2 linked regions of the Homo sapiens genome follow. The protein of the gene in region 1 purifies or fractionates together with the protein of each later gene. This does not show direct contact. Each region holds a gene or a part of one and is shown on either strand. Other genes may lie near its edges.

What was found. Proteins that work in one complex are often made in the same cells at the same time.
Region 2: the proteins of EDNRA (region 1) and ARL5B purify together in Homo sapiens (affinity purification with mass spectrometry; 3 studies listed by BioGRID and IntAct, with this or other methods). This does not show direct contact.

Annotation. Positions count from the first base shown.
Region 1 is NC_000004.12:147,525,493-147,530,664, forward strand, and holds part of EDNRA (endothelin-1 receptor isoform a precursor), read left to right. Parts: exon of another isoform or gene 1-1,004; coding exon of another isoform or gene 1,005-1,059; exon of another isoform or gene 1,060-2,058; intron 2,059-5,172. UniProt on the Homo sapiens protein: Receptor for endothelin-1. Mediates its action by association with G proteins that activate a phosphatidylinositol-calcium second messenger system. The rank order of binding affinities for ET-A is: ET1 > ET2 >> ET3.
Region 2 is NC_000010.11:18,678,363-18,682,889, reverse strand, and holds the end of ARL5B (ADP-ribosylation factor-like protein 5B), read right to left. Parts: 3' UTR 1,251-4,527; downstream 1-1,250.

The DNA of each region.
Region 1 (5,172 bases):
CCCAACAAAAATGAATAACCAGCCATTACCAGCTATTAAAATAGTTATTTTTACATGCTGAAAGTGACAAGTTTTATATATTACTTTGAGTTTGTTTGGAGGCAAAAAAAAAAAAAGCAGCAGCAGGAGAGGGGTAGGAGGGATCACTGTTGATCTTTGCAAAATCGTGTTAAAGTGGAAGATGATGATGATGGGGTCAGACCAGTAAAAAGGTCTGGGTACAGATCCAACTTGTTAAAAGTTGCCTGGGGAAGAAGGCTATAAAAAGATAAAACTCTTTTAACAACTATTCCAGAGTGATGTGTTATTAGATACTTGGAAAAGTTGCAAAGATCCATTAATGAGGCAGCTTTGTTTTATATGGCTGAAAAGCTGATGTCAGTTCTTGAACCCATCATTTCAAATAATTGATCAGTGGTCTCTGTGATATTCTCAAAGGTATATCCTAACTCAAGAAACATGAAGGTGGTTTTCAGAAAAACCTCTTTGTTAGAGTTGGACTTGGTTTCTCCTTATTTTCCTGGTGTTATGGTTTTCTATTGCACCATGACAATAGTGAAGACACAGAGGAAGGGTCTGAGCCAGAAGACATGAGCAGGGAACTGGACAAAGTCCAAGGCTGGCTAGGGCAATAGGATCTTATTTGGGAGTCTGTTCACTATCGTACTGAGTTATTTGTTCTTTTATCTTATTCTATTGTCAAGATCAGGCAACTGGTTAATTTTGCTACCCCACTTCTCTTTGATAACTACCCCAAAACTTAGCAATTCAGAACAACAACCGTTTTATCATATCTCACCATGTTGAAGGTCAGGAATTTGGGCAATTCTTCTGCTCCTTGTCACGTCACCTGGGGTTGGTGGACTTCAGCTGACTCTGAGCTTGTGTCAGAGGTCCAACACTCACATGCCTGGCACCTTGGCAGGGACAGCTGGATGTCTGAGCTCAGCAGAGCCCATCTCCCCCTCCATGTAGTCTCAGGGTCCTCTCTGTTTTTGCTCCAGCAGGCTCAAGGCTCCTTTCAGAGGCCAGACCTGGAACTGCAAAACATCATTCTAGCCACACTCAATTGATCAAAGTAGTCACAGGCCAGCTCAATTTAAGAACTCAACTGAAGAAGTGGTAAAGCATTTGCAGCTGTCTTTTAATTCACCACACCTGATTCTCTTCTAAATTGGAATTGGCCAAGCAGTTGCAGTGGCTCAGCCTTAGGAGGCCGAAGCAGGAGGATGGCTTGAAGTCAGGAATTCAAGACTACCCTGGGCAACATAGCGAGATCCTTGTCTCTACAAAAAATATTTTTAAAAATTAGCCTGTCATGGTGGTGGGCACCAATAGTCCCAGCTACTAGGGAGCCTGAGATAGGAGGATCCCTTAAGGGAGTACAGGTTCTGGAGGCTACAGCTATGATTGTGCCACTGCACTTCAGCCTGGATGACAGAGTAAGACCCTATCTCTAAAAAAGAATTCTTCCTGCTAGCATTTAGCTTCCAAACCTCCATATGGTATGAGAGATATAAATCATTAACAACCATTACAAATGATCAAGTTTGCTGTTAATTAAAGATGTGCAGAGGTAAAGATAGGGGCGGCACTGTACCTTATGGAAGTGGTAAATAAGAATAAATAATAAATTCTAACACAGGCAAGCATTCATTAACAGGCACTTGGTAGAAACTTCTTTCTTAAGGCACTTCAGCCACCTATTTATTCCCTGATCCAGTAATCCCACTCAAGATAATTAATCCAGAAAAATCATTCAGAAAGAGAAAAAAAATTATGTGTACAAACAAGCTTATAGGCGTCTTATTCACAGCTGTGAAACACTAGAAATGATGTGAACATAGAAAAAAAATTCAAGTAAATTATATCAAAATCTTGTTATACTGTGTAGCCATTAAATTGATAAGGGCCACGCCCGTGTAGAAACATAGGAGAGTATTTTTAATGTAAATAAAGCTAAAATTTAAAAATTGTGAGTCATATGATTATAGTCTATTCAAACTATGCCTGTGAGAATCAAAACAAGAAAAGAATAAAAAAATAGATTTTGTTGAAGTGGTATCTTTTTAATTTGTTTTATTTTATAATGTTTTAAAGTTCTTTCAAGAATAAACATTTTTAAACTTAATGACTATCCCAGACCACACCTTCAAGATTCAATAAACATGCATTAAATGCCTCTGGCCTTAATAACATGTAAAAATCTATTTATAGGCACACGCACTAACAAACATCTTTACATGAATAAAATATATATTTTATACTTTTATTTTGGCCTATCACATGACAGGGTACAAGGTGATATAATGCAAAAAGGCTCTACCGGGAGTTGGCAGCCCTGAGCCATGGTCCAGACGCCCCAGGTTCACTGGAGACCAGGCAGAGGATGCGACAAGATGCCAGCTCTCAGGTTCCCAACTGGAACATATGGGGCAGAAAGATCAGCCCATAGATCCCTCCTTTAAATTATTGAATCTGGTCCTCTAAAAGTATTAGCTTTTAATCTGTGGCCTAATTCATGGCTAGCTTGAAAAATAGGAAAATGATCAGAATGTAGTGTGCTATTAGCTTTAGCCAATTAAGGTAAGGTAAGGTTACACAGTACATCTGTGTAAACATAACTCTTAGAATTATGCTGACTGATTCTTCACCAGAATTCCCTAGAGATTAAGAATTCCCTAGCCAATTAAGGTGAGGTAAGGTACATGCATGGTAACAGGCATGAAAACGCCAACAAAAAGACACTTCATTCAACAGGTATTTATTTGGCACTTGTTGTTCTAGGTATTGTGACCAACATACAAAATGTCAGCCTTTATGAAGCTTATATGCTTTTTTTCACTTTTTTCTTTTCTTGCTTTCTTTTTTTTTTTTTTTTTTCAGACAGGGTCTTACTCTGTCACCCAGGCTGGAGTGCAGTGCCATGATCAGGGATCGCTGCAGGCTCAACCTCCCTGGGCTCAGGGGATCCTCCCACCCCAGCCTCCCAAGGGAATATAGGCATGCACCACCATGCCTGGCTAATTGTTGTATTTTTGTAGAGATGGAATTTCACCATGTTGCCCAGGGTGTCAAGCGATCGCCCCCCTCAGCCTTCCAAAGTGCTGGGATTGCAGGCATGAACCATCGCACCCGGCTGGGAACTTACATTCTAAAGGAGAGGGGAGAGCATAGATGATAAACCAAATAAATAAATAGAACATTGTTGGTCACATTGTAGTGCTATGGGGAAAAATGAATCAGGGTGAGAGAGACAATTCTGGAGGGGGAGTTGGCAAACTTAAGTAGGGTCTCCAGGGAAGGCTTCTGTGAAAACTGCAATTGAGTAAAAACCGGAAGGAAGTGAGGAAGCAGCTCTGAGGACACCTGTAGGCATTCTCACAGGGGTGGGAAGCCACTGGGGGGTTTGGAGCAGAGGGTGCTATGGTCTGACGTAACAGCCTCACTCCAGTTGCTATGTTCTGACGTAACAGCCTCACTCCAGTTGCTATGTTCAGACGAGGCTGTGGCAAAGCAAGGTGGACATAGGAAGATCAGTTAGGAAGCTATGGCAATCATCAAGGCACTGCGATAACAGGTACGATGGTGAAAAGTGGTTGCATTTGGATATATCTTGAAGGAAGTTGTTGCAAGATTTGCTGAAGGATTGGATGTGTGGTGGAAGAGGAGTGAAATCTAACCCAATGTTTGGGGCCAGAGATGGGAACAACTGCAGAAAGGTTTAGCCACAAGGAAGACAAGGAGTCTGATTTGGGAGTGTTTAGATGCCTGTTAGGTGTCCTAGTGGAGCTCGCAAGTAGGCAGTTGGAGGTACAAGTCTAGAGTTAAAGGTGAGGCACCAGGCTAGAGGTATAAATTTAGGAATTACCGCTAGATGGATAGTTAAATGACATTAAAGCCACGAGACTAGATGAGATCACCAAAGGAGAGCGCATAGACAGAAAAAACGTCTGAGCACTAAGCCCTCAGACAAATCCAATACTAAGAATTTGTGGAGAAAGCGGGGTCCAGCCAGGTAAATGAGAAGGAATGGCCAGTAAGTCAGAAGGAAAACTGGGAGATTGTGGTGGAAATCAAGTGAAGAAAGCATTTCAGAGAGGAGGGATTCTTTCTGGAACAGCAGTTGTCAGTGGTGGAATCTACACTTGCAGATTTTCCATGACAACTGAAGATGTCATGGATATACAGAGAGAGATGTATATACATACTGACTAGATGGAAGGCTATTTATAATCGCACCTCATGAGAAAAGCATATTTGTGTGTCAGTGTGTTGTGCCATTATATTCAAAATAGAAATCAGTTTTGAAACATCCAGTGTTTCATGGTTTCCATACATTTCCCCACCTCCATTATCACAAATGATTGTTCCTAATTGTTCTTATGGCTGTTTTCCCCTTATCTCATGGAGATGTTATCGAGATCTGTGTGATTATAAATGGAAAATATTCTAATTTTCAGTGAGTGGGTTAATGAAGGAGCAGACTGATCATGAATTATTTGCTAAACTAGACTCTAAAAATGACTTCTACTTATTTGTGAATGTTGAATTTACATTGGATTATGGATGTGTAATATTCTGGGAACTCATGGCGCTTTATAAAAATGAAGTTGGTCTGTGAACATGTTCATCATAAGAACATGTTGACCACATTTTATTCCTTAAGCCACTTTTCACCCCAAATCCTGGCAAGGAAATCAGGTTTTCTTACTCTCTAATGAAACAGGGTGTTTTATTTAAATCACCTTCCCTGGTAAACAACCTGAGAGAAGGGAAGAAGAAATAGATGTAACTCCGTTGACAGCCTTGGGATATAGACATCCTGTCTCCATTCCTCTTAGCTTTACTGGGTATCAGGCTGCCAGTTTAACAAGGGAACAAAGAAAAATAAACAATGATTTTTATCCCACTGGACAATTTATGGAAATAACCATAAATTTTAAAATTCAATCTTGATTATATCATAAAAGGATTTTCTTGGTCTGTTTGCATAGCTGTATTTTATCCCATTTTGAAATAATCTGGACTTTTTTGAGATTTGTATTGTACACAAATCTTATTTACCCTAAAAATCTTTTATAAAACATTTCTCCAGTAAATTGTGCTATATAATATGCCATGTGGCATCATCGTAAAATACCCAAATCTGTACATGCTCATCTCTAGGGA
Region 2 (4,527 bases), on another chromosome or scaffold:
GGTGGAGTGATGTGAGGAAGGGGCCATGAGCCGAGAAATGCACACAGCCTCTAAAAGCTGAAAAAGGTGAGGATGAGTTCTCTCCTGAACCTTGAGGAGAAACACAGCCCTGCTGGCACCTTAATTTTAGACTGTTTTAAATCACAAAATTGGGGATAATTAGTCAAAACCAGTGATTATCTGCGGATGGGGAGTGGAGCAGAAGGGAGGATTACAAAGCGACACTAGGAAACTTTTGGAGTGACAGGTATTTTCATTACCCAGATTGTGGTGAAGATTTTGCAAATGTATACACATCAAAGCTTTTCAAATTGTACACTTTAACCACGAACAGTTTAATGCATTCATTATACCTACAAAAATACCTACATAAAACATGCTTTAAAAAAGATACCAATCTTAAGTTTACTGATTAAAAAATAACAGGCAGAATGAAATCTTACTAGTTTCTGGTGTCTTTCAGAAGAAATCTGAGTGTTCCGTGTGTAGCAGAACTCTTAAGCCTAGGTACCTGAAATTCCTAACCTTCTACTCAAAATTCCTAACTCTGTAATTATGAGTCATTTTTCTACGTAGGCAACTTTTATCACATTCCCAAAGAGGTCTGTGAGCAAAAACGGTGGAGTTAAAACCACTTTAGAGGAATGTGAAGAATGAACATAGTGAAAATGTTATCCCACTCATTATTAGATCTCAATTTTATTTTATTTTTTACAAGGACACAACTTTGGTAGATGATCCCAATTATACCCCACAATGGAGTACACACCAATCCGGATCACCTTCCCAGGCCAGGGATTCCCCTTCTCTGGTAAATGCACCTTCCACTTGGCCAGTTGTTTAGATCAGAGAGAGGAAATGACCCAATGCAGGCTAATGAACAATTTCCCTGGGGAATATGGAATTGTAATTGAAAGTCTAACAATAATCTGACTTCTCCCTTGTACAAATTTAGGAGGCTACTGGACTTGGGACATTATCTGTTATGTGGATCAGGAAACAGAGAAATCCAGTCAGGTGAAAGACAGAAACAGATGAGCAGGAAAAAAGGTAACTTCCTGCTTGCTCCTAAATGGTCCAGTCTCTAGTCTCAGTCTGTTCTACAAATCCAGTTGTTCCGTGGGTTCTGTGAGCCTCCACCACCTCACCCCAATTATCCTCTCTTTGTTGGCATAGGTGGGTTTCTATTATTTGCAAGCAAATAACTTAAAGCAGATTTACCTTTAAAAGAAAACACTGGATTCACTTCGTATTGGAAAAGTAATTATTTATTATGACAAAAATAAAACTGTTGAATGAAAACAAATGAATGTTACACTATATTGCACCATGATTGGAAATGAGCCAAAACCTGTCTAAAAGATGAACATTCCAGAGCAAACAGCATCGTTTTACTTGGGTTAAGTAGGCATGCAAACAACTCATTATAACATAATTGCAGAAATAAAAATTATGAGTACTGGCAACCTAAACTTAACATATAAAAGAAGCACTTCATAACTAATAAAGTATTAAAAACTTTAAAACATGTCATTTAAACAATCCCACCATCAGGAAAACATGCTTTGAACCATTTTCAAGAAGTGATCATGTGAATGCATTAATTTACTTGTTTTAAATTTTTTGTTGTTGTTGTTAATGCTTATATATTGGACCAATGGAACACATTTGTTTGGCTGGGGTTCAGACACACAGTTTGTGGTGTGAAAGACATTTTTCTTTCCTCTGCACAATACCGGAGGACCCACAGAGCAATCCAATTCCTAATTCTGACCTTATTAATACCATCTTCCAGTTGACCAAGCATAGTAATGAAGATATTCTTAGAGCTTTCGCAGAAAGCCTGAAGCTTAAGGAGTAACAACAGTTTGTATTTAAATCTTAAGAAATGCACATATATATGAATATAGACACTTTAAAGTTGTTTTGCATTCTGAGGCAAGAAATAATAAATACTGAGTACAGGGCCTGCTGCTTCCTCTTTAATGCTCTAAAGCACCAATTTATGTTAAAATAGCAAAGTGTGATTATAATCATTCACTCTGATTAGAATAAACGCAACACCAAGGTTGTAATTGCTGTTAGGTTTTTGTTGTTGTTGTTTTTAACATGCTCTGTGGAATAGATGAACATGGTAAAATTTGTAACTATTCTGTAATTGAAAAAAATCATGACCGTTTTATTTTACACTTTCACTGAAATAGCAGCTAAACTTTTTTTAAGTCATAAATAAAAGTTTTTGTAACTACACTCAACAGTTTACTCCAAGAGAATAAAATAGGGGCTTCAGAGTCCCTAAATTTCCTGAGGGAAAATATAAGATTAAAATGATTATGGTCTCTTGTGAATAGGGCTTAAATATGCAAATAAGTCACTGATGACTGGGATCAACTGATAGTCATTTGATATCTTACCAACACTGATGGAAATATATTCACAGTATAAAAGAATCCATCAAATTTAGGATTTCTCCTTTCCCTTATCTAATTAAACTAATTAAATATTGACTGAGCACTTTCCTATGTGCTTTAATGAAACCATATGTGAATCTCATATATCTACCATGTTGGCCCAGCTGGTAAACAAGAGTAAAACAAAACAAAGTCTCCAAGGAATGCTATCCCTTAGTTATGAATTTTGCATATTTCAAATACAGTTTGGGTGAAGGGGGTTTTTATGGGATGGTACAAACATCCCACAAACTTGAGCAAAGCACCTTATGGATTGAAAAATGAGGTAATTTTTTAATTAAAATTTTACAAGTTGTGCAAGAAAACATATCCATTCTTTTAAAACTTTGTTTTCTATTCCAAAAGCTATGCACAGCACATTTCATATTTCTCCATTTCCAGGAGAAAATGTAGATTACTGGTTTAAGAAATGCAAAAGATGCCTTTATGTGACTACAGTTCCAAATTCTAAAACCCTAATCAGTCTTCACTCCTTTGGCCACATTAAGAATAATACAGGCCATCTAGCTGTATGGTAAAAAGACAGTATTTTTTAGTAATTTTAAGTACCCTAAATACGAGGAGAGGCAGAAATTCACTGCTTTCATTCACATTTTCTCTTACCTAATATCCTTTTGAAGTTTTTTCGACCTCATGATATTGTCTTTACTTTCAAGTGCTTTGAATTTGTTTTTCGTATGCTTCTAAACCTCCAAATTAATATTTCCCAAATGTTTCACCAAACTATATACATTTAAAGCTGCCTTTAGGTCTGAGGGGCACAATTTTTTTTTCTGCTTTAAATTTAAAATGGAATAGTTGAACATATTTTTTTATATTGGTCTTCCTCTATTTATTTTGGTCCCCTAAAATTTTTTAAAAATACTTTTTTGGGGAACCTGGCTTTTGGATTTCAGTCTTCACAGTAAAAGTGAATGAATAAGGAGGAGACGCTACTGAAAAACTAACCTTGAATATAAACCACTTTCAGATTTATGTAGACATTTATGTAGACATTTGTAAAAGACTGACAACCTGGCTACTAACCCTACTCTTTCAATATGGAAAGTCACACAGAACTATAGACTGGGGTGGCATCAAACGGCAATAAACTCTGAACAAATTAACCACTTCCATTCAATTAGTACAAGCCAAGAAAATAAGGTAAATTATCTAGAAGAGAATTATTTCCAACACAGGCTGGTTCTTTCTAAGCAGCTTACTATCCTTTTCTTAGCAATATGGCTTGTTTTCTCTTTTGCATTGTCATTAGCTATTTCTATTCAGCTATTAATTCGCTGAATTTAAGTTGAATAGCAGTTACTGATACGTTTTTCCCTACTTGGTTGTATTCGTATTCTAAATAAAATAACAGGTGGGAATCAAATAATGGATAAAAATACATTTAATTTCATATTACCTGTATTGCCCTACTATTTGAGGGATTTTTAATTTTTAATAGTAGTATATAAGCATTCAGAATTTTAAAACCAAAAGACATTTTAGAGCTGTAGTTTAAGTTCCTCAGTATGGGAAAAACAAAAGGAAAGCCATGGACACTAATTGTCTAAGGTCAACTAGACAATTGAGAAACGGCCAAATTAAGGCTCAAATCCACTTTTTTAGATGGCTAGCACAATATTCTACTAGATACAAGACACCATGCTGTATCTTGAAGTCACTTTACCCCGGCAAAATGTAAAATAGCCTTTAGGACTGAATTAGAGTGAAGTTTTTTTGGTTCCAAAGCTGTAGACAAAAAGTCTGCCTCATAAAGTTGGTCTCCAAAGATAAATTCCAAAGAAATTTATCCATCTTTAGACACGACACCAGCACATTTTTCTACTGATACGGTTTTACATAGTTAAGGACTAAATAAAAATTGATTATTCAGAATGATTATGTTTATAATTTGTTCTAAGAAACTACACTAAAAAGATTTTTTAAAAAAGCTTCTATATTCTTTAAAATTTTCTTTGTGACCCCCACAACTTTTCAGAGAATATTGTTTACAGCACTGCCTATCACTGTTTCCATACTAAAATAATTATTTTCTCTTTATGCTATAATGAAAGTT